Homo sapiens: one gene and its partners. The protein of the gene in region 4 purifies or fractionates together with the protein of the main gene of each other region. This does not show direct contact. Each region holds a gene or a part of one and is shown on either strand. Other genes may lie near its edges.

Region 1 (7,201 bases), on a different chromosome or scaffold from region 4:
AAGAGGGTATCATAACCCTGGATTGGGGTGCTCCTAGGTCTGGGCTCCCCAAAGGGCTGCAGCTTTTCTCTCCTTCTCTCTTTTCTCCTTCTCTCTTCTCTCCTTCTCGTTGCCCACAACGTGGCAAGCAAGGGGTGTGTTTCAGTCCTGTTTGTGTTACAGATCTTTTAGTGCCACCATTTGCCCAGTGGGTCCCAAGTTCTTGTCCTGTGTCCACAAAGAATGAAGTATGCAGACAACTGGAGGGTGAGCAAGGCAGAAAGGAGCCTCACTGAGTGGCAGAACTGTTCTCAGTGGGTATCTCCTTTCCTCAGGCAGGTTGTCCCGATGAGTGTCCAGCTCTCAGTGGAGAAGAGACCCACAGTGGGTAGCTGCCTTCCACAGGCAGGTTGCCCCGATGTCTCTGCAGCCTTCAGCAGAGAGACCCAGAGTGGGTAGCTCCTATCTGCAGGCAGGTCATCCCATTGTCTGCCTGAGTCTGGCTGAGTCTGGTTTTTTTTATGGACTTCAGAAGGGAGGAAGTGTGTGCTGATTGGTCCACCGGCAGCCATAGGCAGGCCCAGGAAAAGCACCATAAATTCTCACTCCAGTCTGCAGGACTGATAGCTCAGCCCCTAGGTTTCAGGCTGTCCCTGTCTTGAAGGGGGCTTCACTGGGGACCCATCCCATTTCACCCAGGAGCCTGATTGCCCCCTGCTGCCATCAACCTGCTGGCCATGGCACCCATGGCACCCAGGCTGTTCATGCTGAGGGGTGCCTGCAGGTACATGCCGAACTGCCCTCAGCCTCACCCTGGCCTCCCTCCCATGCTCATCGGCACCCAAAGTCTGGAGGGGGCCGAGGCGGCAGGGGACTGGTGTGTCAGTGCTGCCCTGAGTGCGTGCACCCCCAGCTGGGTCGTGACAGTATCTGGGCTCAGCTTCAACTTTGCTCCAAAATCAGAATGGGCACCAGGAGAGGCCAGGCAACAGGAGCAGGCACTTCTGAGCCTGTGGGAGTAGGGGGGCTTTCTAGGTCCCCGGGAGCACAGGGATGCCCAGGTCTGCAGCCACAGCTGGGTGGATGCAGCTGTGCCTGGGAAGGCAGGGCTCCCGCCCCACCAACTCAGAAGGGAGTGGGGCTCCTGCCTGTTCCTAGCTCCTACCAGCTCTATGGAGCATGCAGTCACGGCCTCACCTCGCCATTGCAGCTAGCATCATGGCAGTGGCTGCTCCAGATGGACCACTGCTGCCATCACCAAGATAGGATGAAAAGAGAAGACAAATGTAAGAGCACTGGTTGGTGTCTGTGGCTCCTGCACCAGGGTCCCAGCTGTCCAAACTGAAAACCCAGGAAGCTGGCTCTGAGCTTACTGGACTTTGCAGAGGGATGGCCATATATTCCTAGCACTTTGTCAGCTACAACTGCCATATTTGGAGGTCAGGCAAAGTGAGCCAGTCTTCCACTCCAAAATCCAGTTTTTAATTAATAAGTATTACCCAACACCTAAGGAGTGTTTAATTATGATTACCTCTGAGAAAGGGGATGGTAGGCAACTTTTAAAACTTTATATATGTCTGTATTGTTCAAAGTTGTTATAGAAACATGTATTACTTGTAGATAAAAAACCAAAAAAAATTTTTTAATAAAAATACTTCATTTTAGTATAGTGCTTTATAGCAGTGCTTCTGTAACTTTATTGTGCAAATAAACCGCCCAGAAATCTTGTTAAAATGCAGATTCTGATTCAGTAGGTTGGCAATGGGGCCTAAGATTCTGCATTTTCAACAAGCTCCCTGGTGATATGGAGTCCATTAACCATACTTTGGGTTTACGGCAGCGGTCCTCAATCTTTTTGGCACCAGTTTCACAGAAGCCAATTTTTTCACAGACGGGATGAAACTGTTCCACCTCAGATCATCGGGCATTAGATTCTCATAAGGAGCGTGCAACCTACATTCCTCATGAGGGTAGTTCATAATAAGGTTTGTGCACCCCTCTGAGAATCTAATGCCACTGCTGATCTGACAGGATGTGAAGCTCAGGCGGTAATGCCAGTAATGGGGAGTGGCTGTAAATACAGATGAAGTTTCGCTGGCTTGCCTCCTCTCACCTCCTGCTGTGCCACTCAGTTCCTAACAGGCCACAGACCAGTACTGGTCAGTAGCCCAGGGGTTGGGGACCCCTGGTTTACAGAATATAAAGCACATTCATATATATTATCTTATTTGTTCTCTGTCACAACTCTGGCAGATAGGGGTTCACTAATTCACTTATTCGACCATTAGGTACTACTATTAATATATACCAGGCACTTGGCATACAGATATGGTCAAATGGAGTGGGAAACCTACCACCCAACCAAACAAAAAAAAACGCATGTTAACCAACAAATAAATAATTATAAATAGTTATCAGAACTGAGCAGGAAGTAAAGAGGGTGCTGAAAAAGAACAACAGGAACCACTCTGAGGAGGCCTCTAAGAGGAGGTGACTTCAGCAGGGATGGGAAAGATGAGCCACTCAGTTTAGGGGCAAGCTCTGGGCAGACACCAGGAAGCTCCTGCAGCTAGAGTGCAGGGAGGGAGGGAAGATCCCTAGATCTGGCCCAGAAGGCTGCGGCAAGGGGCCGATTTCAATTTAATTCTGGGGTAAGCACTGAGGATTTAGGTAGAGAAGTGTCTGTTCTAGTATTTGCCTTAGGATCACGATGGCTGTAGTGTGGGAAATGAAACCTCTCCAGGATCGCCTGGGAACTGGTATAGGGAGTCCCGGGCCATGCGGGGGCGCCAAGGAGTCAGGCCTGGTGTCCCTGCAGCCGCGCGGATCCACTTGCAGATGGGTCCCTCTACGAATAACGAGCCTACTAGGGCACGTGCTTTTACTGCTGCACTGAGGACGTGAAATGCGCGCAGGCACAACGAGACTTTCTTCTTTTTCGCTCTTTCAGAGGGCCCGGGCTCCCATCTACGCTTTGCTGGTTACGTTGGCATGTTGGGCATTTCCCCCTCTCTGCCTCAGTCTCCCGACCTGTCAAAGAGGACGGTGGGCCAGCCATGGGTGACACGCCCGTGCGCCTCTCCAATAGTGCACCTCGGGCAAGCCGGGCGGCGGGCACAGCCTGGACGGTGCCGGCCTCGAGAGGCACAAAGGGCTGGCTTTCCACCGGGGAAACTGAGGCAGTGGAGCGAGGAGCGGCGTCCTCGAAAGTCCTCGCAAACTCCCAGCGCCTGTGTTGGGCCCATGCAGGCTACCCAGGCCGCCCGTCTCCGAGCGGAGGACCCCGCCCAGCGCTGCCAGGGGCGGGGCCGGGCTGAGGACCCGAGGCTGGAAGGGAGGTCGGAGCACCCAATTCGGTCCAGGACTCGCAGGGGGCGGCAGTGGCGGCGGCGAAGTCCCGTGCAGTCCCAGTGCTAGAGCGTGGGACGGACTTGTGGGGCACCCCTCGGTGTTCTCCAGCCAGGCCTGGGGGCAGGAGGCCCAGCCACGCTGCCGGGTGCAGGCCTGCCCCTGGGCGCCCGCCCGCGCGCCGTCCCCGCCCCTCGGCCGCCCCCTCCGCCCCGGCGCGGGCTCGGGACGTGCAGAGCCGGCGAGCGAGCAGCAGGGACTGCGCCTGGCGCACTCACTTCCGCGTCCCGCCGCCCTCCGGCCCGCGCGCGCCGATCCGCCGCCGCCATCGGACAATGGGCCGCCAGCCCCAGCTGCCGTGAACTTCCTGCCGCTGCTCGGCCGCCCGTGCGTCCCGGACGGCGTTCCTGCCAGGCGCCGGCCGGGATCGCAGCTCCGGGGAAGCAGCGGAGGACCCAGCGCCTGGAACGTACCTGCGCCTCAGCCGCCGCGCGTTTGCTCCGGCCCGACTCGCGGCCTCGGCGCCCTCCCGGCCGATTCAGCTTCACCCGGCCCAGTCGGCTGCTGCCTTGCTGTGAGTTTCCGTGTTTGGTTGCCTAAGGAGGATGTGATTTTACTTTTTTGCTGTTTTCTTTTTCCTTTTATAATTTGAAGAGGAGAAAAGAACTCCGCTGAGCAGGCCCGGGACGGCGAAGTGCCACCAGCTACCCCAACAAGGACGTCTCCAGGGGAAAGGGAGTTGGAAGCAAACTTGGTCCAGCTGGCGTTGAGGTCTCAACTTCGGCTGGACTCTTAAATCCTGGGGTCATGCCCTTCACGCTAGGCAGGTGGAAGTCTTTACTTGTACTGGGCCGGACTTGAGCCCCGACCCTTCGCCAGCATCTCCCCGCTGCCCTCAACACACACACACACACACACACACACACACACACACACACACACACACACACACACACACACACACGGCACCTGGGCTAGGCCCGGACACCTGTCTGCAGCATGGATAAGTATGACGACCTGGGCCTGGAGGCCAGTAAATTCATCGAGGACCTGAACATGTATGAGGCCTCTAAGGATGGGCTCTTCCGAGTGGACAAGGGTGCAGGCAACAACCCCGAGTTTGAGGAAACTCGCAGGGTGTTCGCCACCAAGATGGCCAAAATCCACCTCCAGCAGCAGCAGCAGCAGCTCCTGCAGGAGGAGACTCTGCCCAGGGGGAGTAGAGGCCCTGTCAATGGAGGGGGCCGCCTGGGCCCACAGGCCCGTTGGGAAGTTGTGGGCAGCAAGCTGACTGTGGATGGTGCTGCCAAGCCTCCTCTTGCTGCCTCGACAGGGGCACCTGGGGCAGTCACCACCCTCGCTGCTGGGCAGCCCCCGTACCCACCGCAGGAGCAGAGATCCAGGCCATACCTGCATGGCACGAGGCATGGCAGCCAGGACTGTGGTTCCAGGGAGAGCCTGGCGACTTCTGAGATGTCTGCTTTCCACCAGCCAGGCCCCTGTGAGGATCCTTCCTGCCTCACTCATGGAGACTATTATGACAACCTCTCCTTGGCAAGCCCAAAGTGGGGTGACAAACCAGGAGTGTCCCCCAGCATCGGCCTGAGTGTAGGGAGTGGGTGGCCTAGCTCCCCGGGGAGTGACCCACCACTGCCCAAACCCTGCGGGGACCATCCCCTAAATCACCGACAGCTCTCCCTGAGCTCCAGCAGGTCTTCTGAGGGTAGCCTCGGTGGTCAGAATAGTGGCATTGGTGGCCGCAGCAGCGAGAAGCCAACAGGCCTTTGGTCCACTGCCTCCTCCCAGCGGGTGAGCCCTGGCCTGCCTTCCCCAAACTTGGAGAACGGAGCACCAGCTGTGGGGCCTGTTCAGCCCAGGACCCCTTCTGTGTCAGCACCCTTGGCCCTGAGCTGCCCCAGGCAAGGAGGTCTTCCAAGATCAAACTCGGGGCTGGGGGGTGAGGTTTCAGGTGTGATGTCCAAACCCAATGTGGACCCCCAACCCTGGTTCCAGGATGGGCCCAAATCTTACCTTTCCAGTTCTGCCCCGTCATCCTCGCCAGCTGGTCTGGACGGTTCACAGCAGGGTGCGGTCCCTGGGCTGGGGCCGAAGCCTGGCTGCACAGACCTTGGCACTGGTCCCAAGCTCAGCCCCACCAGTCTTGTCCATCCAGTGATGTCCACCCTGCCTGAGTTATCTTGTAAAGAGGGTCCCCTGGGCTGGTCTTCTGATGGTAGCCTGGGATCTGTGCTCCTGGACAGCCCCAGCTCCCCTAGGGTAAGGCTGCCCTGCCAGCCCCTCGTCCCAGGTCCTGAGCTGAGACCCTCTGCTGCTGAGTTGAAATTAGAAGCCCTCACCCAACGTCTGGAGCGAGAGATGGATGCTCACCCGAAGGCTGATTACTTTGGTGAGTGAGAGGCTGGTGGAGTTGCCTATGGTGGGGCGATGGGGTTCTTGAGATTGGGGAACATGCCCCCTACCAGGGATGCTGTGGGCTGTAGTTACCTCTCTTTGAGTGGCCTGTTTTTTTATTTTTTTGTTTTGGGCTTCCTCTTTCAGCTGCTTTTTCTGATTCAGAAACTTGAAAGCATCCTGGGGCAGAAAGCGGACCTTGCAGCTGGGGTTACCCATGTGTGAAGGGTGCAGCAGGGTGGGATTGCTCATGACTGCTCTCAGAAAAGAGAAATGCTGTGACTTTGGATTTCAAGGGTTTTGGGTGTGACTTTAGAGCCTCTTGCAGTGACAGGCTCATATAGGACTTCAGTGGGACCAGCTTTCTCAGGGGCAGCTACCCCTGAGCGTTCAGTCTGTAGTTGGTTGGGCAGATCTGGTTGATCTGGCTGTTTGAGGGACCAGTGATTGAGGCAGGGGCTCTTGACTGCCGTGTGTGTGTGTCTGTGTGTGTGTCTGTGTGTAGATGGGTACTTATGTGCAGTTGAGGCAGGTCAAACACTACCATGAAAGACTTGTAGAGCAGTGGATCTTTTTTTTTTTTTTTTGAGATGGAGTCTCGTTCTGTAGCCCAGGCTAGAGTGCAGTGGCACAATCTCGGCTCACTGCAACCTCCGCCTCCCGGGTTCAAGCAATTCTCCTGCCTCAGCCTCTTGAGTAGCTGGGACTACAGGCACGTGCCACCACACCTGGCTAATTTTTTTTTTTTAAGTAGAGACAGGGTTTCACTGCGCTAGCCAGGATGTTCTCAATCTCCTGACCTCGTGATCCGCCCGCCTTGGCCTCCCAAAGTGCTGGGATTACAGGCGTGAGCCACCGCGCCTGGCCAGAGCAGTGGTTCTTAAGTGTAGTCCCTGGATCAGCAGCATCCCTTTGCCTGGAAACTGATTAGAAATGGAAATTCTTGGGCCCCACCCAAGACCTACTGAATCAGAAACTGTGGGATGGGACCCAGCCAGCCGTGATCCTGCTGTGTGGTGAGATTTGAGCCCTGCCGCACCATGTGCCTCCTAACCCAGCCTACACCCAGGTAACAGCCAACAGCCAGGTTGCACCACAGCCGTGGCACAAACTATGATGGAAAATGTGTCTTCCTGGTTTTACTCAAACTTGCATGTTTTGTTTTATTCTCTTTTTTAAAACCACAAACTCTTGGAGACTGCTAGCTTCAACTTTTTTTCTTTGCACGAGGTTTAGTGGTAGTTGTATCTTTCTGTTGAGTAATGATTAGTTGTCTCATAAGAGAGCTAACTAGAAAGACAGCCTATTCGCAGAGAATCGGAGGGGTTTTTCTTTTTCAGTTTTTAACTTTGGATAATTGACCCCCGTGTTCCCCATAGCCTGAGTCCTGCTGGGGTAGCAGCTCTGCCTAGTGGAGGGCAGGGACAGGGAAGGCCCTGGGAGAGGAAGACAGCTGGCTTAC
Region 2 (7,931 bases), on a different chromosome or scaffold from region 4:
CTCTCATACTTCCTCACAATCACTATTCCCTTTTCATCCCCCCAAGGTAACCATTGTCCTTACTTCTAACATCCTACAGTAATTTTGTCTGTTTGGGCTTACAGATAAATAGGATCATATAGTAAAAATGCTTGAGTCTGGCTTCTTCCACTTAACATTATGTTTGTGAGATTTGTCCACATTGTAGTTTGTAACTGTAGTTGATTTATTTTCTTTCTGTATAGTATGCTATGAAAACATAATCATATATTCACCCCTTCTGCTCTTACTGGACATTTGGGTTGTGTGCACTTTTGGGGTATCTCTAACAATGACATACACTCTTGTATCTAATTGCACATTCTTTTGGGGGCACATATGCATATACCTCTTTGAAACTATTTGGCCAAGGACAGGCTTAACATCTGTAGATACTACCAAATATTTTTCAGGGGCATAATTTGCAGTCCCATTAGCAGCATATAAATATCACAGTTTTCATTTTTCTACATCTTCTCCAACATCTAAATACAGATGAAGTATTTCTGATGAAAATTTGATGTTGGAATTGGGTAGTGCAGTAAATGCAAAATATATAACGAATTTCAAAGGCTTAGTTTAAAAAAGTAAAATCTCAATTATTTTTTAAAATTGAAGGCATGTTGAAATAATATTTTGGATGTATAGGGTTAAAAATTGCTAAAATAAATTTCACCTGCTTTTTTCACCCTTTTAATGTAGCTACAAGAAAATCCCAAATTATGTGTGGCTTACACAATAGTTCTAATTGGATAGTGCTGCTCTAACACCATCAATACCTAAATTAGTAGAAAACTAAAAAATATGCCTGTTAAAGTATGGATATGTTGGTTGCAAAAACTACAGAATACTCGTTAGAAAAGCTGAGTTAAGTGCTCTATTCCAGCAGAGAATATCCCAATTTAGATACAGATATTGAACACTTGTTCAATATTTGGATCTTTTTTTTTGCAAGACAAAATTGAATGCTAGTCACTTTATAATTTGTGCCTTCTAAAAGGGAAAACCTTAATCCTAAGTTTAAAATAAAATGTGCACTGACTACAGCATGGTAGTAGATTATTTTAGTAACAAGAGATTCAACAAGTCTTCTCGGCTAGTGCTTTAAATCGTATATGCCCTATTATAAAACCGGTGAAACCAGAAAGCAAACCGTCCTCCTCACACTGCCCAAAACAACTGCCAATAGAGCGCATACTCATATGTCAAAGCCAAAACGATGACAGAAGTTTGGTCTTCCTTTCAGCTAAATAGTGTTAACAGGTGGTGGCTGGGTGAAGGCAGGAGAGTGCCTGTTGCTGGCCTTAGGCCTCAGATAAATAAGGAAATGACTGAATGAACAATTTAAAACTACACACACTAGTCAGTGTAACTATCTAGTAAGTTAAATACGCCATGACATCTAATGATGGCCTCTGAGACAGAGAGCAGGCTAGAGCCGGAGCGTTTGACGTGATTACAGCAGAGTGGAGGCGGTTCCTTCCTGGCTATATTAGCTGAAACCCAAAGCAAATCTTGCCCCAGCACAAGGCACCCCTTTCTGCGCCTGTAGTGTGTCAGCTATGTGCATTTTCCTTCAGGATGAGCAAAAATATTTCGTCATCCTCCCCGCTCCTCAACAGCGCAGAAGATGCCGAAAAGCAATTACAGGACCTTACAGAGCTGCTCCGGGGGCCGCGGGAAACTTACCAGCATCCTGGAAAAGACAAAACCAGTGGGGTGCACTTGGCCTCTCCTGGCTGCAGGGTGTGGCCGCCCCCACCTTTCACCTTCCCATCCTTAGGAAGCAAAGTGACCCCTAAGCCTAGACAAAGCTCTCGAAAGCCCAAAGCCTCGGGCCCACCGGCCAGCTCCCCACCCCGCTGCTGGGCCGGACAGGTGTAGGGGAGGCGGACCCGCCCCGCAGCCGACTCACCCAGCTCCAGGGCCTGGTCGCACCTGAGCAGCGCGGCCTCCGGCTGCTGCTGGCGCTGCAGGCTCCGCGCCTGGCCTGCCAGCCTGCGCAGCCGGCACTCGGCCGGGAAGCACTTCTCCAGCAGGCCGCTCAGCACCACGTTCACGCGCCGCACCTGCGGCCGCGCGGGCCCTGGCTCCACGCAGCGCTTGCAGACTGTGAGCCCGCAGGGCAGCGTCACCGGCTTATGCAGCAGCCGCCGGCAGCGCGGGCAGCCGAGCAGGTCGCGGGGCGCGCGGGGCTCCGGGGCCGGCCCTCCCTCGCCGGGCGCCTCGGGCTCGCCGCCCGGGTTCTCCGCGGACAGCGGCCGGTCGCGCAGGCCCACGGCGCGCACCAGGCCGCCCGCCAGCTCTTCCAGCTCCTCCGGCCGCAGCGCCCCGAGCCGCGCGGCGCCGCGGAACGCGCCCAGGGCTTCGGGGAGGCGGCCGGCGCGGGCCAGCGCGTCCCCCAGCCTCAGGCACAGGCCGCGGTCCGGCTGCGCCAGCCCGGCTAGCATGGAGCGAAAGAGCTCGGCTGCCATCTCGTAGTCGCCCGCGCGGAAGGCCTCGTCGCCCTCCTCTAAGCGCTGGGCGATCGGCTCCGCGCGGTCGCAGCCAGGACACTGGGGCGGCGGCGGCGGCGGGACCGGCTCGGGGCTCATCACCGCGGGGCTGCGACGACGCGGGTCCGGAGCGAAGGCGCGGAGCAGGGAGGATGCGCTGCTGCTGGGAACTGGCCGGCGGGAGCGCGGTCTCAGCCCTCGCCAGCAGCCACGCGCGTCTGGGGGCGGCGCGCTGCGAGCGGCTGAGACCGCGGGCGGGGGCGGGCGCCTGGCTTGGGCAGCGTCCTCAGCGCGGTGTGGGCGGCGAGCCCCGCAGGGCTGCAATCGTTCCGGGGTGGGGGCCGGGACAGGCACCGCGGGCGCAATCTGAGCCCCTGCCCACGCGCAGCGGCCTCTCAGTCCCGCCGGCTTAGGTAACCCAGGTCGCTGCGGTAACGCAGTGACCGCGCTCCAGGTCCGCGTCTCTTGCGATGCTTCCCCCACTCGCCTGAGGGCTCCTGCGCGACTGCGCGCGCGTCCTCTGCCTGCCGCCTCCCCGCAGAGGTGCCGGGGCCCTGGGAGCAGGTGGCCTTGGCCGCGGGCTGCTGGCGCGCCGGCACCGCGGCACCTGCTCTTCCCCAGAGGCCTGGCCGCCCCCACAACCTGTGGCTCCGCTTAAGCAAGAACCCAGGAAAAGTCACCAAACGCATCACGCATCTCTAGCTTCGACTTAGGAAATTGTCCTAAATGACTGGGGAGGCTGAAGTGGGCACCCAGAGGCCCCGCCTCAGCGAGCTTCTTCTCTTAACTCTAGGCTGAGGCCTTTGAGAACTCATTTTAACAGAGAACGTGGAGGGCCAAGAGAACCAGATACCAGGAGGAGGAGGGATTCGAGAAGTGGACAATTGTATTGTGCCCTTGATTAGGAAGCAGAAATAGAATTAGAAATAGAATTCTAATTAATAGAATTAGAATAGAAATAGAAAGGGTGCCCTAGTATGGAGTACTGCAGACATAAGTTGCTGGGGAGAGGGAGCTAAACGCTCCGTTGGTGTACAAGCAAGGTTTAAATTAAAATCCTCTGTGCGTATTAACCGGGTTCATAATTTCTCCTATATAGCCTATGTATTTCTCCTATGTAGCCTGCTCCCTTCTTCCTGTCGTCACAGTATCTGTTTTATCCTGTGTATTTGAATACAATAAAATGCATTACAATATTCTAGAATTCATACTACTGTTCATATTTCAAGAATAAATTTTTTTAAAAAATTGGAGAGGTTTTTCTACATCTAAAACTGCTGGCTAAAGAAAATATACAATACCTCGACCACATCTGGCTTTGGGAAAGGAGAAATGCCTCATTAAGTGAGAGAACATTTTAGACCAGTTCCTAAAAGGGAAAAAGGGGCAATTTTTGGCCAGCCCTCTAGTTCTACAATAAACAAATGCAGAGTACCCACCTCCTTTTCCATGAAGGATTTCCCCCAGCTGTCTACCTAACTTAATTGATAACAGTGTACTGTTTGGGTCTCTTTTTCATTACTGAATTATTTCAAATTCACTTTTTCAATCACTGTTTGGATTTTTATCTGCTTTCTTTATAGAATAACAATTCACTTATATTTGAGGGTCATTTATCCATCAAATTCACAACCAACAATCAGGAAGCAATGGGGAAAAAGCTTCAGAGCACAGACCATACAGTAAAGATTGTGAAACCTTATGATCTCAGATCCTATTTGTTCTTATTTTAGACAAATATCTAGCAAGAGAACAGAAAGAAGCTTGCCGGAGGTATGCCTGCTGAGAGCCAGAAGTGTTTAAAGCAAAAATGTTAGTGTGTTGTGAGGTTTATAACACATAGAAATAAAATATATCACAAATATAACACAAAGGCAGGTAGAGGAGAAATGGCAGGATACTGTTGTAAGGTTCTAATGCTATATGTGAAATGGTATAATGTCACTTTAAGAAAGACTGTAATGAGTTAAGGATGTGTCCTCTAACCCTAAAGCAACCTCCTAAATAACACAAAGAGCTATAGTTTAAAAGCCTATAGAGATGAAATGAAATTGTTAAAAAAAACTCTATTAATCCAAAAGAAGGCATAAAAAGAGAGGAAGGAAACAATTAGATAAAACAAATAGAGAACAAATAGCAAGATGGCAGGTTTAAACCCAATTATATCGGTTAATGTTCATTAAATATTGTCTAAATACCATAATTAAAAGGCAAAGATTGTCAAAAGGAAGACCCAGATATATGCTGCCTACCAAAAAAGAACTTTTAAATATGAAAATACAAATAAGGTAAAGGTAAAAGGATGGAAAAAGATGTTCTAGTTAACTCTAAGCAAAATAAATCTAGAGTGACTATATTGATAGCTGACAAAGTCTATTACATAGCCAAGAACATTGCTAGGAGAAAGGACAGCCATTTCATAATGATAAAGGTGTTAGTTGGTCAAGAGGACATAATAGTCCTAACCGCGTGTGTTCCCAATAACAGAGCTTTCAAATATTTGAAGCAAAAACTGATAGAACTGTAAGGTGAAATAGGTAAATTAATAATTATAGTTGGATATTTAAATATCCCTTTTTCACCATAAAAAGAACAAGATCATGTCCTTTGTAAGGACATGGATGGAGCTGGAAGCCGTTATCCTCAGCAAACCAACACAGGAACAGAAAACCAGATGCTGCATATTCTCACTTATGAGTGGGAACTGAACAATGAGAACACATGGACACAGGGAGGGGAACAACACACACTGGGGCCTGTCGGCGGTGGGACCGAGGAAGGGAGAGCATGAAGAAAAATAAGTAATTCATGTGGGGCTTAAAACCTAGGTGATGGTTTGATAGGTGCAGTAAACCACCATGGCACACGTTTACCTATGTAACAAACCTTCACATCCTGCACGTGTACCCCAGAACTTAAAAATAAAACACCCCTCTTTCAACAATTAATACAAGTATACTGAAAATCAGTGAGGCTATAGAAGACTTGAGCAATTCTACAAACCAACTCAATCTGATTGATGTTTATAGAACACTCCACCCAACAATAGCAGAATACACATTCTTTCCAAGTGCACATGGGACATTTACCGATATAGAACATCTTAGAGCCATAAAACAAATCCCAATTTAAAAGTATTCCTTCTAGGGCACTGATACATCAATAAATTGGATCAAATTGAGGACTTCTGCTGTTTTAAAGACACTGCTAAGACATGCTACACACTAGGAGAAAATATTTGCCGATCACATAGCTGATAAAGTACGAACCAAAAATATATAAAGAAATCCAAGAACTCAATAAGAAAATACAGAACTGGATTAAAAAGTGAGTGGAAGATTTGAACAGTCATTTCATTACAGAAGACATATTGATGGCAAATAAGATGCTCAGCATTATGAGCCACTGGGGAAATGCAAATGAAACCCCAAGCAGTTAGTACTGCACACCTAGTGGAATGTCTGTGATTAAAAAGGCTGACCATGCTGAGTGCTGGCAAATACAGGGCATATGCAGAACTCTCACACATTGTCAGTGGGAGTGTACCATGGTGCAGCCACTTTGGACTACAGTTTCTTAAAATGTTAACTGTATACTTATCATATTAACCACCCATTCCACTTCTAGGTATTTATCCAAAAGAAATAAAAGCATATGTCCATTCAAACACTTCTACATGAACCTTCATAGCAGCTTTATTTGTAACAGCCCCAAGCTAGAAATAATTCAAATGTCTTTCAACGGGTGAATGAACAAATTATGATTTCTCTACACAATTGAAAACTACTCAGAAATAAAAAGGAATGAACTATTAATGTATCAAATAACATGTATGAAATTCAAAATAATTATGCTGAGTGAAATAATACAGCAAGATAGAGTACGTATGTATAAATTATTCTATTTATACAAAAATCTTAGGCTGGGTGCGGTGGCACATGCCTGTAATCCCAGCACTTTGAGAGACCAAAGCGGGCAGATTGCTTGAGCCCAGGAGTTCGAGACCAACCTGGGCAACATGGTGAAACCCCTTCTCTACTAAAATTACAAAAAATTAGCCAGGCATGACAGCACATGCCTATAGTCTCAGCTACTCAGGAGGCTGAGGTAGGAGGATCGCCTGAACCCAGGAGGTCAAGGCTGCAGTGAGCTATGATTGCACCACTGCAGCCTGGGCGACAGGAGTGAGACCCTGCCTCAAAAAAAAAAAAAAAAAATCTTGAAAGTATGAGTGAATCTACACTAATAGAATCTACACTACACATGAGTGGTCATGTGGGGATGGGAAGAGGGATTACAAAGATCCATGAGGAAACTTTTAGGGATGATGCATACATTTGTTACCTTGATTGTGGCGATGTTCTCATGGGTGTATTTGTGTGTCAGAACTTATCACAATGTATACTTTTTTATTACAAAAACCATTTTTTATAGAGATGGGGTTTCACTGTGTTGCCCAGGCTGGTCTCGAATTCCTGAGCTCAAGCGATCCATCTGCCTTAGCCTCCCAAAGTGCTGGGATTACACACATGAACCACTGCACCTGGCCTATATACTTTAAATATATGCATCTTATTGTATTGCAATTATACCTCATTGGGGCTGCTTTTAAATATGTGTCGATTTAAAGAGAGGTACTCAAAAATTAAAATTTTAAAAAATATATAGGATGCTTCTAAAGCTATATTTCACAGAAAACTATAGCCTTAAATGCTTGTGTTAAAAAATAATAAAAACTAAAAAGCAATGTGTTAAACATCTAATTCAAAAAGTTGGGGATTAAAAACCAACAGAATAAACCCCAAAAGTAGTAAGAAGACAAAGAGAAGAAACTAGTGAATAGTTCTTATCTTGGTAAAAAGAAGATACAGATATCAACTCAAAAGGTGAGAAAAAGGAGCAAACGGGCAACAAAATGAAACACTGTAAGAGGACAGAAATAAGTTAAAATGTATCAAAAATGTTAATAAATGTAAGAAGACTAAATTTACCAATTAATCACTGAATATATCAGATTGTAAAATAATCCAGTCCAACTATATGTTATTTTAAAGAGGTACACCTAAATTATGAAAACAGATGTAAGTTAACAATAAAAAGATGAAAAAAGATATATCAGGTAAATGCTAACAAAAATAAAGCTAGGATGGCTGTATTAATAGCAGATAAAATAGATTTTAAGGCAAAAAGCACCTAATGATACAAGGTTCAACTCACCGTGAATATACTAAATTCTAAGCGGCTATGAAATTAATAAGATTCTCAAAATGTATAAAGAAAAGAAATTGATGCAACTACTTGGGTAGACAAGAAGTGGTGAGTGAAAGTGAAATTTTACTCTTTTTAAAAGGATTTTTTTTTATAAAGCCCCTTTTTTTTATTTTTTATTTTTTGTTTTTTGAGACGGAGTCTTGCTCT
Region 3 (7,020 bases), on a different chromosome or scaffold from region 4:
AGACACTTCTCAAAAGAAGACATTTATGCAGCCAACAAACATATGAAGAAAAAAAGCTCATCATCACTGGTCATTAGGAAAATGCAAATCAAAACCACAATGAGATACCATCTCAAGCCAGTTAGAATGGCGATTATTAAAAAGTCAGGAAACAACAGATGCTGGCGAGGCTGTGGAGAAATAGGAATGTTTTTACACTGTTGGTGGTTGTAAATTAGTTCAACCATTGTGGAAGACAGTGTGGCAATTCCTCAAAAATCTAGAACCAGAAATACCATTTGATCCAGCAATCCCATTACCGGGTAGATACCCAAAGGATTATAGAGCATTCTGCTATAAAGACACATGCACACATATGTTTATTGCAGTACTATTTACAATAGCAAAGACTTGGAACCAACCCAAATGCCCACCAATGATAGACTGGATAAAGAAAATGTGGCACATATACACCATGTAATACTATGCAGGCCTGAAAAAGAATGAATTCATGTCCTTTGCAAGGACACGGACGAAGCTGGAACCCATCATTCTCAGCAAAGTAACACAGAAACAGAAAACCAAACACCGCATGATCTCTCTCATAAGTGGAAGTTGAACAATGAGAACACATGGACACAGGGAGGGGAACATCACACACTGGGGCCTGTCAGGGTTGTGGGGCGAGCGGGGGAGAGCATTAGGACAAATACCTAATGCATGTGGGGTGTAAAACCTAGATGATGGGTTGATAGGTGCAGCAAACCATCATGGCACATGTATACTTATGTAATAAATCTGCACATGTGTCCCAGAACTTAAAGTAAAAAAAAAAAAAAAAAAAAGAAAATTTCACTCTCTGAGTGGAAGGCCTAAGTGCACCTCTCCTAGTCATTAATTGATTACACAGACTGAAAACATTAATGAGCTCATGGAAATTTTGAAGATACAATAAACTTATTCTAATATTTCTTAAAGCATACTGCATCCATAAGTGAGACCATATGCAATTGTCTTGAGCCCTGATCTTAAGGGATTTAAACTAGAAACCAATAAACAGAAAGACACATTTTAAAAAATACACATATTTGTAACTTCAAAAAAAAACCCCTTCAAGATAAGACTCTTCCCACAAAAAATATACCAAGTCCAAAGTTGACTTGTATCCATCTACCAAACATTCAAGGAACAGGTAAAATATTTTGAGTGATGGGAATATAGTTATTATTGCTATGTTTGTTGTCATCTCTTGCCTGCAGAATGAAATATCCCTAATGAAAATACTGGTCACTTGAATTTGTCTCCAACTTAGATTCAGGAAGATTATAATATTAAATAAATAAATAAATGCATGTATGTATATGTATATGCAAGTATGTGTGTGCATCACACACCATAGCACTAGAACCTGCACTATGCCTGCTACTGGTTTTCAAAGAAGAAACAAGTTATAGAAATTATAATAAAAAGAAGTCTAGCTCAGTATACACTTACAACTTTCCTAGTTGCAAACTGGGAAAGATTTTTCAAACATAGAACCTTACAATCTATAAATTAAACCCAAGAATGAAATCTCATGTCTTCACTTCCAGATAAAAAGTGCTACATAGAAATGCTGAGCTTTAATTTGAACTTTTAAATCAAACTATTAAAAAATTACAATGGGATGATCCGTTGAAACATGCATTATACAAACAAACTTCCTCAGCCAGCCTTTAGAATAAGAATAGCAAAACAATAGTTTGGAACTTCAGCTTCAGCTAATTTGAAGGGGCTATGCTGAAACTGAAAGGCAAGGAAAGGTCAGTTTTTTTCAATTTGTATATTTTTATAGGTATAATTAGAGAAAAGAAACAAGAGCTCCAACCTTGTATGTTGGAACAGAAAAAGAGGACTACTGCATTTTAATTCCTTGAAAACTCTGGAATGCATTAATTATATTAAATTCTCTTATATGTTATGTGGTTCACAAATCAAATTTTTCCTCCAAGTTTGAAGGACTGAGAGGCTTCTTAAAATTCAATTAAAACGATGTAAAGAAATATCCACATTATGGATACGCTCCACTTAGAGACCTTTGCACTTGGCAGGAAAACTTTTCTCTTTTTATCTTAGTAGAGTTCAGGAAATGCTACCTTAATTTTCTCTTTGCTTCAATATTTCATGAGTGCCTCTCAATGCATAGTCTCCGAAAGCGTTAGATTACTGACATGATGCTATTTTACATGATGTGGATGATTTTATTTGTACGAGTTCAACATGTTAGAATTTTTATCTCTTTTTCTTTTACACTTAGAAAAAGATTGTAATGTACAAAATGATATTCTGATTTTTTGTATAAACAAACATCTCTTATACTGAGATCTAATGAGTAAAATATGTCCCCCAAAGTTTAGTATTATTGCAAGAAATTATTCTTCATAATAATTGCAGAATTCCCTTCTTCAGGTAATAAACTTTTACTAACAGAAGGACAAAAATGTTTCCAAAGACACCAGGGTCCTTACATATGCAAATTAATAAAGCAAATCTATTGTCTTATCAATGAAAGCATCCTCAAATTCCTCCATGCTTTATCTGTGTTCTCACATCATCACAAATCCACATCTATATGAGATCCTAGAGCTACAGAAAAATGCATGTTCAGAGCACATTTCAGACCAAAGTAGTAATTAACAGAAATATACTTCCTTGGTTTTGGTCCTCTTGGTATGCTATTACTTCCTTCAAAAAAATCAACATTTATATTGTGCTTAGGTTTTAAATAAAACAAGGATGTACATATGTTCATAAGTATGCGATAACTGAAATATCAGACATCCAAATGTCATAATTATTATTTTTAAAATTCTAACGTAAGTGGCATGTTTTAAAACAAACATGCTATGTCGATAAGTTATTTGTTCAAATGCTCATAAGTACATCTTATTGAACGGCTGTAAATGTGTTTCGGTGCATTGGATGCTGTTTATATGCTTATATTTCTGTAACTAGGAAATAAAAAGAAACCACATCATTAATTGTCAGGCCCTCCATGTGACAGTAGAACAACCGATAGGCCACTGGCTCAATTAAAGTGTGCAGGGCTCGTAACTGAAGAGTTTTGTTTTTATCACAAAGAGGGCTAGAGCATGACAGGAATTCTTCATAAATTTGGAGATGTTATGTAAATATTTAATAACTCTGCTGTGACAGGCCATGAGTACTTGAGCAGAACCTGACCACAAGATTTAAATAAATATCAAGCCTGGGAGTTGTTAAATATTGAACATCATTATGATTGTGGTGTTTTAACAAACAATCATTAAAAGGTAGTGCAAATCCAATCAAAGGAACATTTTTAATAAAGAAACAAAGATCTGGCATGTTTACATTTTGGAAAACAAAAATCAAACATCTCTGTTCAGTTATCCTAAATATTCTCCCTTCAGCTCCACCACCAACCAAAAAAGGGGTAAAAAAAAAAAAAAAAAAAAAGATTACCTTGGTTTGTAAAAATTAATAGCCTTCGCAATTTCTTCAGAATTTGCTCTAGAGGCACAGCTCATACATGCATTGCCTTTGCTATGATTAACTTTGGTGGTACTTTTCTCCTGTGCTGCCATGCACTGTTCTGGAAAGCCTGTCAGCGGCTGTCTTCTGTTGTCTGTGTCACCTGAGTCCTTGTGCTTGACTTCCTCTACATGGTTTAAAGATGGATTTGCACCAGTAATTCTTTGGATACTTGAAGTGAAACATGCTGCCCAGGTGATGCTTTTGTTGCCCAAGTGACATTGAGAAGCAGGAATTGACTTCAGCATGTCGGCTTCCCTCAACATGTCAAGAAATAGCAAAGCCAAATCCCAGATGTGGTCCGTTAATCCCACTGTCACAGAATAAACTATGTGGTCCCAGTAAACACAACCACCCATTAGCGCTAAGGAGAGGTGATAGAAACCATTTGTTAAAGGTGACACTGTTTTCTAAGTGATAACACTCTTTTGATCATGTGATTCATTTTGTTTGCTCAACAACATGGTATGTGTTTTTCCTGAGAGGAAGGACTTCAATATATATTTACTTAGAGCTTTTAATTTATACTTCCTTTCTTTTAATTGGTGTCTTGTGATCTAAAATTAGCTGATGAACATAGTATCTCACTCAAACTCTCTCAGCTGAGTTTTCAATAATTAGACCCACTGTTGCCTGAAATTGAACAAACATGTGGAGACTTGGCTTATTATTTCTTCCCTAGTGCTTTCTATCCATACTTAGAGAGTGATTTTTTTTTTTTTTTTTTTTGAGAGAGAGTCTCGCTCTTTCACCCAGGCTGGAGCGCAGTGGCGCGATCTTGGGTCACTGCAACATCCACCCCCCAGGGTCAAGTGATTCTCCTGCCTCAGCCTCCCGAGTAGCTGGGATTACAGGCACCCACCACCACACCCGGCTAATTTTTTTATTTTTAGTAGAGATGGGGTTCCACCATGTTGGCCAGGATGGTTTTGAACTGCTGACCTCAAGTGATTCACTCTCCTCGGCCTCCCAAAGTGCTGGGATTACAGGCATGAGCCACCACGCCCTGCCTAGAAAGTGATCCTTTTATTTCACATATAGTCATATTAATCATTATCCCCCAAGCTGGAGTTAGGTTAATAATTTCATGTAAAAAATGAAGTTCAAATAGTCTTGACTGTAACCTTACTGAATAAAGAGCCTACACGAAAAGGAATTCTTTCGTGAAACCTGAGATTGTCAGAGCACTGAATTTCACCAATAAGCTGGATATCGTTTATACAAGGAATAAAAGGTCACGTGTCCTCTAAAATCCCACATTTGCTACAGACATTCTTCCCTCTATTCTTTTGTTTGTGCAGTAACTAGATACAGGTACAATGAGAGTGAATTAGTTTTCCCAGATGAGTGAGAAAAGTAAGTGTTCCCCAAATGCCCAAAGCCAGATTTTATCTGTCATTCTCTCTCTCTCTCCCTCTCTCTCCCTCTCTCTCCCTCTCTCTCTCTCTCTCTCTCTCTCTCTCCCTCTCTCTCAGAGAGAGGCAGCACTCTCTTTGGAAGAACTGTAAGGATTGAAAATGATCCAGAAAAACTGCATGGATTGAAAATGATCCAGATTTTTAGAATTTGCCCTCACCTTGACAACGCTAAAATTACAAGCAGCAGTCAACTTTTACAAGATACCCTTATTGTGTAACATTTATAGGTTGCCAAAAACATGCTAAAACTAATCAGATAACAAAGGTGAGGAGAAAACCTTCACCTGCCATGTAGCTAGCAGTGAATACACTTTTTATTTCCATGACATTTTCTGGCAGAAAGGGGTTGGCTTAAGGCGGATCGGACTAACCTTCAATTTGTCATAGCGCTCACTCAAAGCTGCCACCTGATGATCGCGGTGCCGCCCAACCAGTTTACACAAGGCACAGATTAACTGGTCATCGGTCACACAGTACATATTCACCTTCTCATCCTCATGCTCCAAGCACATCAGCCCCCGGATGTGAGAGTCCGGAATTGGCTCAATCAGACGATGGCCTGTAAAGGGCTTCTTATTCGGGTGAGTGGCTTTCAGGCACTCGTCACAGTAGGATACTTCACAAGTGACACAGGTCTTCACAGCGTCCTGGGCAGGATCCTGGTCACAAAACTGGCAGAGGACCTTCTCGGCGGAGGTCATGGTGTTGGCGTCAAAGGCCCGCTCCCGACGGGTCTCGCTGGGAGAGTTGGGCCCGCTCACTGATGCTTTCTGGAACCTGTCGATGATGTTCTGTAGGGTGACGTTGCGCTTGAGCCCGTCTAGACCTCGCTGGCTGAGGGTGATGACATGCCGGCAGGTGGGGCACTGGAAGGCGGTGATGGACTCCACAGACTCGTTGGTGGCACAGTGTGATACTAGGATGCGGTGGGCGCAGTTGAAGCAGAGGCTGTGTGCGCAGGGCAGTAGAAGAGGGTCCTCAAAGAGCTCCAGACAAATAGGGCAGGTCAGTTCTGACTCCAGTGTTTCCATCTTCAGGCAAAGCTCTCTTGTGTCATCAGCAAAACCCAAGGAAGCTGATCAGCTATCTGGAAACAAGAATGTAAGATTTGATTAGGCACAGGGAGGTCAACCATAGGGGGGTGTCAGCTTTGAATGCATCTCAGAATAATTCCAAACACAGGTCATGAAAGGGTAAGTGTGTGTACATTCCAAATAATTCTCTTTCTATTCACTGGGGAAAAAAGGAGGAAAAAGCATCCTGAGCCATCATATACCAGTTAACATTTTCTCAAAGTTCAGTAACTGAAAATGTGCAATTTTTTTTTTCAATTTTGTTTTTTAAAAGGCTTCATTCAAAACTAGAATGTAATTGAAACTGTAATTTCCATAATTTGTATTTAATCAGAATAATCTTATTGTGTCAGAGTCAGGTTTAACCTCGCACAGAAAATTAAAATGTAGAAATATTCATCAATAAACTAGAGTCTTTTATAAATTTGAATTTATAAACTTACGTATTAATGTATACGAGATTTAAGGACTTTTACTCTGCAATACCAAACCAGGTTTCAGAACAATAGGAAGGCAGTAACTATAGAAATGGGCATGAAATGTACATGAAATCAAATGTGGGGATTTCAGCAGAGATGATCGTGTTTAAGTGTGGGATGTCATTTTCCAAAATATATTCCTGAGAAAAAACATTGACTTTCACAAAGATGATTGTGATAGAGGCAATATTTTTGGCATGTGTTCATTATGTTTCTGAATAATTCTATTGTTTAATCCAGCAGTGGGACGTGGGTAGGCAGAACGAAGTGGAGAAAAATATCTGGGGGCTTTTTCAGTGGCTGCAGTAAGTTTGAGTACCAATGACTAATATTTAGAGCAATGATTTAGTTAATTAGAACAAGGATTTCAGTGGTCATCATATTCATGTGATAAGTTATGTTATGACAATGATAATGATTACAGTTGAGAAAGCAATTTAAGGAGGCTTACAAAACTGCTGAGGGACCCTTTTGGCCAAAAAACTCCCACCACGGGCTTGTCACTGTTGCCAGCAACAG
Region 4 (7,933 bases):
TTTCACTCTTGTTGCCCATGCTGGAGTGCAATGGCACAATCTTGGCTCACTGCAACCTCCGCCTCCCAGGTTCAAGCGATTCTCCTACCTCAGCCTCCCAAGTAGCTGAGATTACTGGTGGCTGCCACCACACCTGGCTAATTTTTTGTATTTTTAGTAGAGATGGGGTTTCACCATGTTGGTCAGGCTGGTCTCGAACTCCTGACCTCAGGTGATCCACCTGCCTTGGCCTCCCAAAGTGTTGAGATTACAGGCGTGAGCCACTGCACCTGGCTGCAAGTGAGGTTTTTATTTTTATTTTTATTTTTTTAGATAGGGGTCTATCTTGCCCAGGTTGGTCTTGAACCCCTGGGCTCCAGTGATCCTCCCACATCAGCCTCTCCAGTAGTTGGGGTTATAGGCACCTGCCACCACACCAGACCCAAAGGTTCTATCTATACAAACACCACGTCCCTATGGTCATGTGTTACACATTCCAAATAGATTTACATCCCAGATGTAGTGGCGCATGCCTGTAGTCCCAGCTATTTGCGAGGCTGAGGCAGGAGAATTGCTTGAACCTGGGAGGCAGAGGTTGCAGTGAGCCAAGATCATGCCTCTGCACTCCAGCCTGGGCAACGGAGTGAGACTCTGTCTCAAAAAAAAAAAATATTTACATCCAGAAGGCAGGGTTGTGTTTGCTGTTTTTCCCATCATTTTATTTTCTTTATTTTTAGGAAGACGGAAAAGAGATGTGGGGGAGGGTTCTCACTATATTGCCCATGCTCTTCTGGAACTCCTGGGCTCAAAGGATCCTCAGGTCTCAGTCTCCAGAGTGGCTGGGATTACAGACATGCACCACCACCGTGCCTGGCTAAAGGAAACTTTTTTTTTTTTAGACAGAGTTTCCCTCTGTCACCCAGACTGGAGTGCAATGGTGCGATCTCGGCTTACTGCAACTTCTGCCTCCCAGGCTTAAGTGATTCTTATACCTCACCCTCCCGAGTAGCTGGCATTACAAGCAGGTGCCACCACACCTGGCTAACTTTTGTATTTTTAGTAGAGACTGGATTTTGCCATGTTGGCCATGCTGGTCTTGAACTCCTGACCTCAAGTTATTTGACCACCTTGGCCTCCCAAATTGCTGGGATTACTGGTGTGAGCCACTGTGCCCAGCCAAGGAAACTATTATGGCTCCAAGTTACTATAGGGGTAGTCCTATCTGAAGTCCAATGGCACCATCTCAGCTCACTGCAACCTCTGCCTCCTGGGTTCAAGCAATTTTCCTGCCTCAGCCTCCTGAGTAGCTGGGATTACAGGCGCATGCCAACACACTCGGCTGACTTTTTGTATTTTTAGTAGAGATGGGGTTTCACCATATTGGCCAGGCTGGTTTCAAACTCCTGACGTTGTGATCTGCCCGCCTCGGCCTCCCAAAGTTCTGGGATTACAGGCGTGAGCCACTGTGCCCGGCCCAGAAATTTTTTAATGTTTATTCTTTTTTTTTGAGACGGAGTCTCACTCTGTCACCCAGGCTGTAGGGCAGTGGTGCGATCTTGGCTCACTGCAACCTCTGCCTTCTGGGTTCAAGCAATTCCCTGTCTCAGCCTCCTGAGTAGCTGGGATTACAGGCGCCCGCCACCAGGCCCGGCTAATTTTTGTATTTTTAGTAGAGCCAGGGTTTTGCCATCTTGGCCAGGCTGGTCTTGAACTCTTGACCTCGTGATCCACCTGCCTCGGCCTCCCAAAGTGCTGGGATTACGGGCATGAGCCACTGCGCCCGGCCCTAGAAGTTGTTTTTAGAAAACAATTTCTCAGCCATGTTTCATAATCCAACCATTGGCTCTCTGCCCAATATTGAAAATATAATTTTCAGCAATTTAATCCTCATATATGGGTCATTATTATGTAGATTTGATTTTGCTAGTGGTTTACTTATGTCCCTGGAATCATAAGGTAAAAAGTATTGGACTTCAAGTCAGCAGATACAGTCTTGTCCCAGATTTGTCAATAATTTGTTGTGTAACCCTGGCAAGTCACTTAATCTTAGTTTTCTCTTCTGGGTTAACAATTATCAAGATAGAATCATAGTATGTTGGAATTGGCAGGGACTTCATTAATTACAATTTCTATTTTGTGGAGAGGTTGAGTGACTTACCCAACCACCTGTATAGTCAGGACGTTTTCTTTCTTTCTTTCTTTTTTTTTTTTTTGAGATGGAGTCTCTCACTCTGTCACCCAGGCTGGAGTGCAATGGCACGATCTCGGCTCACTGCAACCTCCAACCCCCGGGTTCAAGTGATTCTCTTGTCTCAGTCCCTCTAGTTGCTGGGATTACAGGTGCACGCCGCCATGCCTGGCTAATTTTTTGTGTGTGTGTGTGTTTTAGTAGAGATGGGTTTTTACCATGTTGCCCAGGCTGGTCTTGAACTCCTGAGCTCAGGCAATCCACCCGCCTCAGCCTCCCAAAGTGTTAGGATTACAGGCGTGAGCCACTGCGCCCAGCCTCTTTTTTTTTTTTTTTTTTTTTTGAGATGGAGTTTTGCTCCATTGCCCAGGCTGGAGTGCAGTGGCACAATCTTGGCTCACTGGAACCTCTGCCTCTGGGGTTCAAGTGATTTTCCTGCCTCAGCCTCCAGAGTAGCTGGGATTACAGGCACATGCCACCATTCCCAGCTAATTTTTTGTATTTTTAGTATAGTCATGGTTTCACCATGTTGGCCAGGACCTCAAGTGCTCTGCGTGCCTTGGCCTCCCAAAGTGTTGAGATTACACACAGGAACAACCACACCAGGCCTTCAGGAGCTTTTCTAGAGCAAGCAGTCAATCTTTGGCAACACAGACTCAGGCTTTCTTTCAATGTTGTTTCAAGAAACAAACAAAAAGTGAAAGCACTAAACAAATATAAGGCCATAAAAAAAGAAAAAAAAGCCTGATAAATGTTAACCATTAGCCTGCACTGTAGCCTGAAAACTTATCTGAAAATTTAGCCCATCTAACGCAAAGAAAATTTCTTTCTTTTTTTTTTTTTCTTGTTTGAGACAGAGTCTTGCACTGTTGCCCAGGCTGGAGTGCAATGGTGCGATCTTGGCTCACTGCAACCTCTGCCTCCCGGGTTCATGTGATTCTCCTGCCTCAGCCTCCCGAGTAGCTGGGATTACAGGTGCACACCACCACACCCAGCTAATGTTTTGTATTTTTAGTAGAGATGAGGTTTCACTATGTTGGCCATGCTGGTCTTGAACTCCTGAGCTCATGATCCGCTCTCCTTGGCCTCCCAAAGTGCTGGGATTACAGGCATGAGCCACCGTGCCTGGCCCTCAAAGATAATTTCAAATTGAGAAGTTCTGAAAGTATAATAGCTTTTTTTTTTTTTTTTTTTTGAGACAGAGTTTCCCTCTTGTTGCCCAGGCTGGAGTGCCATGGCGTGATCTCGGCTTACTGCAACCTCTGCCTCCCAGGTTCAAGCAATTCTCCTGCCTCAGCCTACCGAGTAGCTGGGATTACAGGCATGCATCATCACGCCCGGCTAATTTTGTATCTGTTAGTAGAGATGGAGTTTCTCCATGTTGGTCAGGCTGGTCTCGAACGCCCGACCTCAGGTGATCCGTCCACCTCGACCTCCCAAAGTGCTGGGATTACAGGCATGCGCTACCGCGCCCAGCCTGAGAAGTTCTGAAACTATAGAAGGAAAGATCAGAAAAATAATAGGTAGGAAAAAAAATTCATGGTTGGCTTGGAGAATACCCTTGAAGGGTGTTAAGTAAAAATGATAGGAGGCCTTTGTTTTGGACTAAACTCCTGCACCAGGCCCCAATAGACCTGGCTAAAATAAAAATGGAGTCACCCATGCTAAAGTTTCACCTCACCAAATCCAAACTAAGTTGTTACCAAACCCAAGCTAAGTTGTTATCTGACCTTCAGAGAAATCAGGAAAGAGGGATAAGGACAGCCAGTTTCCCAAACAGGCTTGTTTTAATGTTGCATGATAATGAAGCTCCCTCTGTTGTAATCCTTACACAAAAGAAGTAGCCTGAAGTAACTGATGTCAACTAATCAGTTATTTTTCTATTGTTCTGTCTCTCTGTCCTCACCTTCCAAGGAAAGTAGCTTAGAAGTGACCAATATGTCAAGGTCCCATGAGAAGACTGAAAAAAAGAGAAGAAAGAGGAAAGAAAAGAATGACAAGAAAGAGAAAGAAAGAAACCAATATGCTCTTTGTTCTTTGCTTTTGCTTCCTCAAGCTTTTCTCTGTCTACAAAGCCAACCTCTCCTGCTCAGCTCATCAGAACATTCACTCCACTTTCTGGAATGAAGTGTTGCCTGATCCTAGAGTCGCAATAAAGCCAACTGAGATCTTAAAACTAAATTCGTTGTAATTTTGTCCTTTGCCAAGGGGGGAAAAACAACAAAAACTTCCCAAGAGTACCTATATCCTCTTATCACTTTTTCTGGTCTTTTCCTTAGTTTTTGCGAAGTGAAATTGGGAAGGTGGAGACTGTCTGTGCTCACACGTTTCTGAGGGAATGGTGTGCAAGAGGTTACTTGAATCCAAATTAATTGACTCACCATTTCCCACTTATACTAGACATTATTACATCAGTTCTCTAATGTAGCACCATGCCTTCCCCAGTTACAACCCAAAAGAACGTGCTGAAACCTGCGGACACCACACTCAATGCAAAAACTCCAAGTCCCGAAATCCTCCGTAGCCTGTCCCCACCGCCTCCTCGCAAGAGCAGCCTCTTCAGTACTGGGAGTTGTAGTCATTCAGAGTCTTCCTTTCCGGGATGAGGGGCGAGAGCGCGCCTCGAGGAGCTACATCTCCCAGGAGGCAGTGCGCACTACGCCCTTGCTGGCGCCGGGATCCTCCCTCTCTCGCTCCTCCCTTTCTGGGCTGCACCGCTCACGCCTTCCTGTTAGTCCGAGCTGGGAGAAGTTCACTCCGATCAGCTGATCCCAACTGACAACAGGAGAGGAGGAAGCCCGGGAGGCAACGAAGGAGGAGGGTGGCGGAGATGGAGATGAGGATGGATCTGCCGGTGTCCTGAGGAATAGCCTCTGCCCCCACTGGCGCCCTGCGGCCCCCCGACGCCGCCTTGCTGCGGCCGAGCTTCTCAGTGGTGGGATCCCCGGGCCGCGGCGGGCAGGGCAGGGCGGGGAGGGCACGGCCCAGCGCGGGGCGAGTGATCGTCCTGGGGCTCAGGCTGCCCTCGGGAGGAAGGGGGGGCGGGTGCGGCGGGGGTGGGGGTGGGGTGGTATAAACAATGGATTCGGCTCCGGGTTTTGCCGGCGTGGGGGGGATTTTGGGGGACCTTCTTTGTTCTTAGGCTCCGCTCCTGCCCCTCGGGTTGTGGCGGTGGTGTCCGGGTGGAAGGAAGGGTGAGGAACCCCCGGCTGGGGAGAGGTGTCGAGGTGGGGGCCCGAGTGGGCAAAATGTTTGGTTGACATGGCCGGGCGTGAGGTGTACTTTTGAAGGTTGATTTTATATTTTTCTCAATTGTGACAAGTTTGATTTTTGTTTCTGTTTTGGGAGCTGGCTGGGCATGTCTGAGGTTAGATTGTAGTAAATAAGATCCCCTAGTCACTCCCTTCGCCTTCCTTGTTTATCTGAAAATAAGGTTGATAGATTGATTACTGTAGGGGAGGAGTGACTATCAGAAAGGCAGGGCTTTACACCTTGTCGGGGCCTTGGAATGCGGGTCAAGGCTAGGGGGAATTAGGAATATAATTGTCAAAGTGACAAAAGCCCCTTTCTTGCCCCAGTTATCTTTTTTCGTATTTTGAAGTTATTTTTAAGTTAGTTTTTAAGTGACAAAGAGAAAAATTATTTGTTTTGATTCACTGCAGGCCTGGCTTTGCCATGGGTCAAAGTAGAGGAATTGTCTCCTGTTGCTCCTTTTTTTTTTTTTTTTCAGTTAGTGAAAGAAGGGACAGAAGAATTACAGTGTAAAAAAATTGTTTTTAAAGATGAAATTGTTACTATTGTTTCTAAGTTTTGAGTCTTTAATATACATCTAGCTAGAGTTGAAACAATCCAGTTACAAGGCTAACCAGGTCGGCCCAGGTATTTGATAGATCTAAAGTTTATTATTACATTTTCATTAGCTTTGTGAAGGCCTCTCCACTCCTCCCAATTGTGGGATGCATGTGGGGGTGCAGAGGGCTGTCCTTCCAAGGACTACTCACTTAGTGATTTAGATTCTGAATTTAATATCTGAATGAACAGAAAATTCCAGTCTGGGAAATAGAGCAGCAAAGTCTCTTAAATGCCTTGGGCCTAGAGGTGGCGTTTGTTGTCAAGAGGAGGAGCTTTAGCCACAATTTTGAGATTTTTTTTTTTTTTTTTTTTTTTGAGGGAGTCTTGCCCTGTCTTCCAGGCTGGAGTGCAGTGGCAAGATCTTGGCTCACTGCAACCTCCGCCTCCTGGGTTCAAGTGATTCTCCTGCCTCAGCCTCCCTAGTAGCTTGGATTACACGTGCCTGCCACCATGCCCAGCTAATATTTGTATTTTTAGTAGAGATGGGATTTCACCATGTTGGACAGGGTAGTCTCGAACTCCTGACCTCAAGTGATCTGCCCACCTCGGCCTCCCAAAGTGATGGAATTACAGGTGTGAGCCACTGCGCCTGGCTATACAACAAGCCAGTGTAAGTGTTAAGATAGAAAATGAGATTTCTGGCCAGGTGCGGTGACTCACGCCTGTAATCCCAGCACTTTGGGAGGCCAAGGCGGGCAGATCACCTGGGGTCAAGAGTTCAAGACCAGCCTGGCCAACATGGTGAAACCCCGTCTCTACTAAAAATACAAAAATTAGCTGGGCATTGTGGCTAGCGCGTGTAATCCCAGCTCCTTGGGAGGCTGAGGCAGGAGAATCGCTTGAACCCGGGAGGCGGAGGTTGCAGTGAGCCGAGACTGTCCCATTGCACTCCAGCTTGGGCAGCAAGAGCAAAACTCTGTCTCAAAAAAAAAAAAAAGAAAAAAAAGAGGAATGAGATTTCTCTCAGCAGTTCTGGGCTAATATTTAATTTAGTCAAAAAAAATTTTTTTAAAGGTGCACTTCTGTTTTTTAGATGAGTGAAATCCTTTTCCTTCCTCTATTCTAGGTATCCCCTGAAATACTGACTTCAGGTCGAATTATATTGAAAAGCTCCTGACCACTTTCTTTCATTACCAAAACTTTGTAGCTGATGTCCAACCGATGAACCCACCACCGTGAACCCATCAGACCTCTCTCAGATAGCCATAAAAGACCCTTCCAAGTCAATTTTGACCACATCTTTGCTTGCACTTTATGGAGGATGAAACCATCAAACCAAATCAACGTTGCTGCTAATACAAGAGTCTTAGAGGCAGCAAATTAAAAATTTGAACATTTGTTTGTGAAGAACTATAACAGGACATGAAAGGTGTTCTTTTTTAAAGTGTTCAGAACCCTGTGGAAGTTTCGTGCAGTCTTCAGACTCAAATCTTCGTCTTCACCCCCGGGGCAAGCTCAGTGACTATTATATGGTGGGTGTGTTTCCTTACCAGCGTGAGTATGAGTGCCCAGACTTCCCCAGCAGAGAAGGGCCTGAATCCGGGGCTGATGTGCCAGGAAAGTTACGCTTGCAGCGGGACTGATGAAGCTATCTTTGAGTGTGATGAGTGCTGCAGTCTGCAGTGTCTCCGCTGCGAGGAGGAGCTCCATCGGCAGGAGCGCCTGAGAAACCATGAGCGGATAAGACTCAAACCTGGCCATGTCCCTTACTGTGACCTCTGCAAGGGTCTCAGTGGGCATTTACCAGGTGTTAGGCAGAGGGCAATAGTGAGGTGCCAGACCTGCAAAATTAACTTGTGCCTGGAGTGCCAGAAGAGGACTCATTCTGGGGGTAACAAAAGGAGACACCCTGTTACTGTGTACAATGTCAGTAATCTCCAGGAGTCACTGGAGGCAGAAGAGATGGATGAGGAG

Evidence for each region.
Region 1: the proteins of ZFYVE1 (region 4) and LIMD1 purify together in Homo sapiens (affinity purification with mass spectrometry; 2 studies listed by BioGRID and IntAct, with this or other methods). This does not show direct contact.
Region 2: the proteins of ZFYVE1 (region 4) and LONRF2 purify together in Homo sapiens (affinity purification with mass spectrometry; 2 studies listed by BioGRID and IntAct, with this or other methods). This does not show direct contact.
Region 3: the proteins of ZFYVE1 (region 4) and MID1 purify together in Homo sapiens (affinity purification with mass spectrometry; 2 studies listed by BioGRID and IntAct, with this or other methods). This does not show direct contact.

The regions. Positions count from the first base shown.
Region 1 is NC_000003.12:45,590,554-45,597,754, forward strand, and holds the start of LIMD1 (LIM domain-containing protein 1), read left to right. Parts: upstream 1-4,197; 5' UTR 4,198-4,326; coding exon 4,327-5,734; intron 5,735-7,201. UniProt on the Homo sapiens protein: Adapter or scaffold protein which participates in the assembly of numerous protein complexes and is involved in several cellular processes such as cell fate determination, cytoskeletal organization, repression of gene transcription, cell-cell adhesion, cell differentiation, proliferation and migration.
Region 2 is NC_000002.12:100,319,482-100,327,412, forward strand, and holds the start of LONRF2 (LON peptidase N-terminal domain and RING finger protein 2), read right to left. Parts: upstream 3,021-7,931; 5' UTR 2,613-3,020; coding exon 1,934-2,612; intron 1,901-1,933; exon of another isoform or gene 1,708-1,900; intron 1-1,707.
Region 3 is NC_000023.11:10,561,568-10,568,587, forward strand, and holds part of MID1 (E3 ubiquitin-protein ligase Midline-1), read right to left. Parts: intron 6,037-7,020; 5' UTR 5,981-6,036; coding exon 5,321-5,980; intron 1-5,320. UniProt on the Homo sapiens protein: Has E3 ubiquitin ligase activity towards IGBP1, promoting its monoubiquitination, which results in deprotection of the catalytic subunit of protein phosphatase PP2A, and its subsequent degradation by polyubiquitination.
Region 4 is NC_000014.9:73,024,095-73,032,027, reverse strand, and holds the start of ZFYVE1 (zinc finger FYVE domain-containing protein 1), read left to right. Parts: upstream 1-4,921; 5' UTR 4,922-5,102; intron 5,103-7,085; 5' UTR 7,086-7,519; coding exon 7,520-7,933. UniProt on the Homo sapiens protein: Plays a role in the formation of lipid droplets (LDs) which are storage organelles at the center of lipid and energy homeostasis. Regulates the morphology, size and distribution of LDs.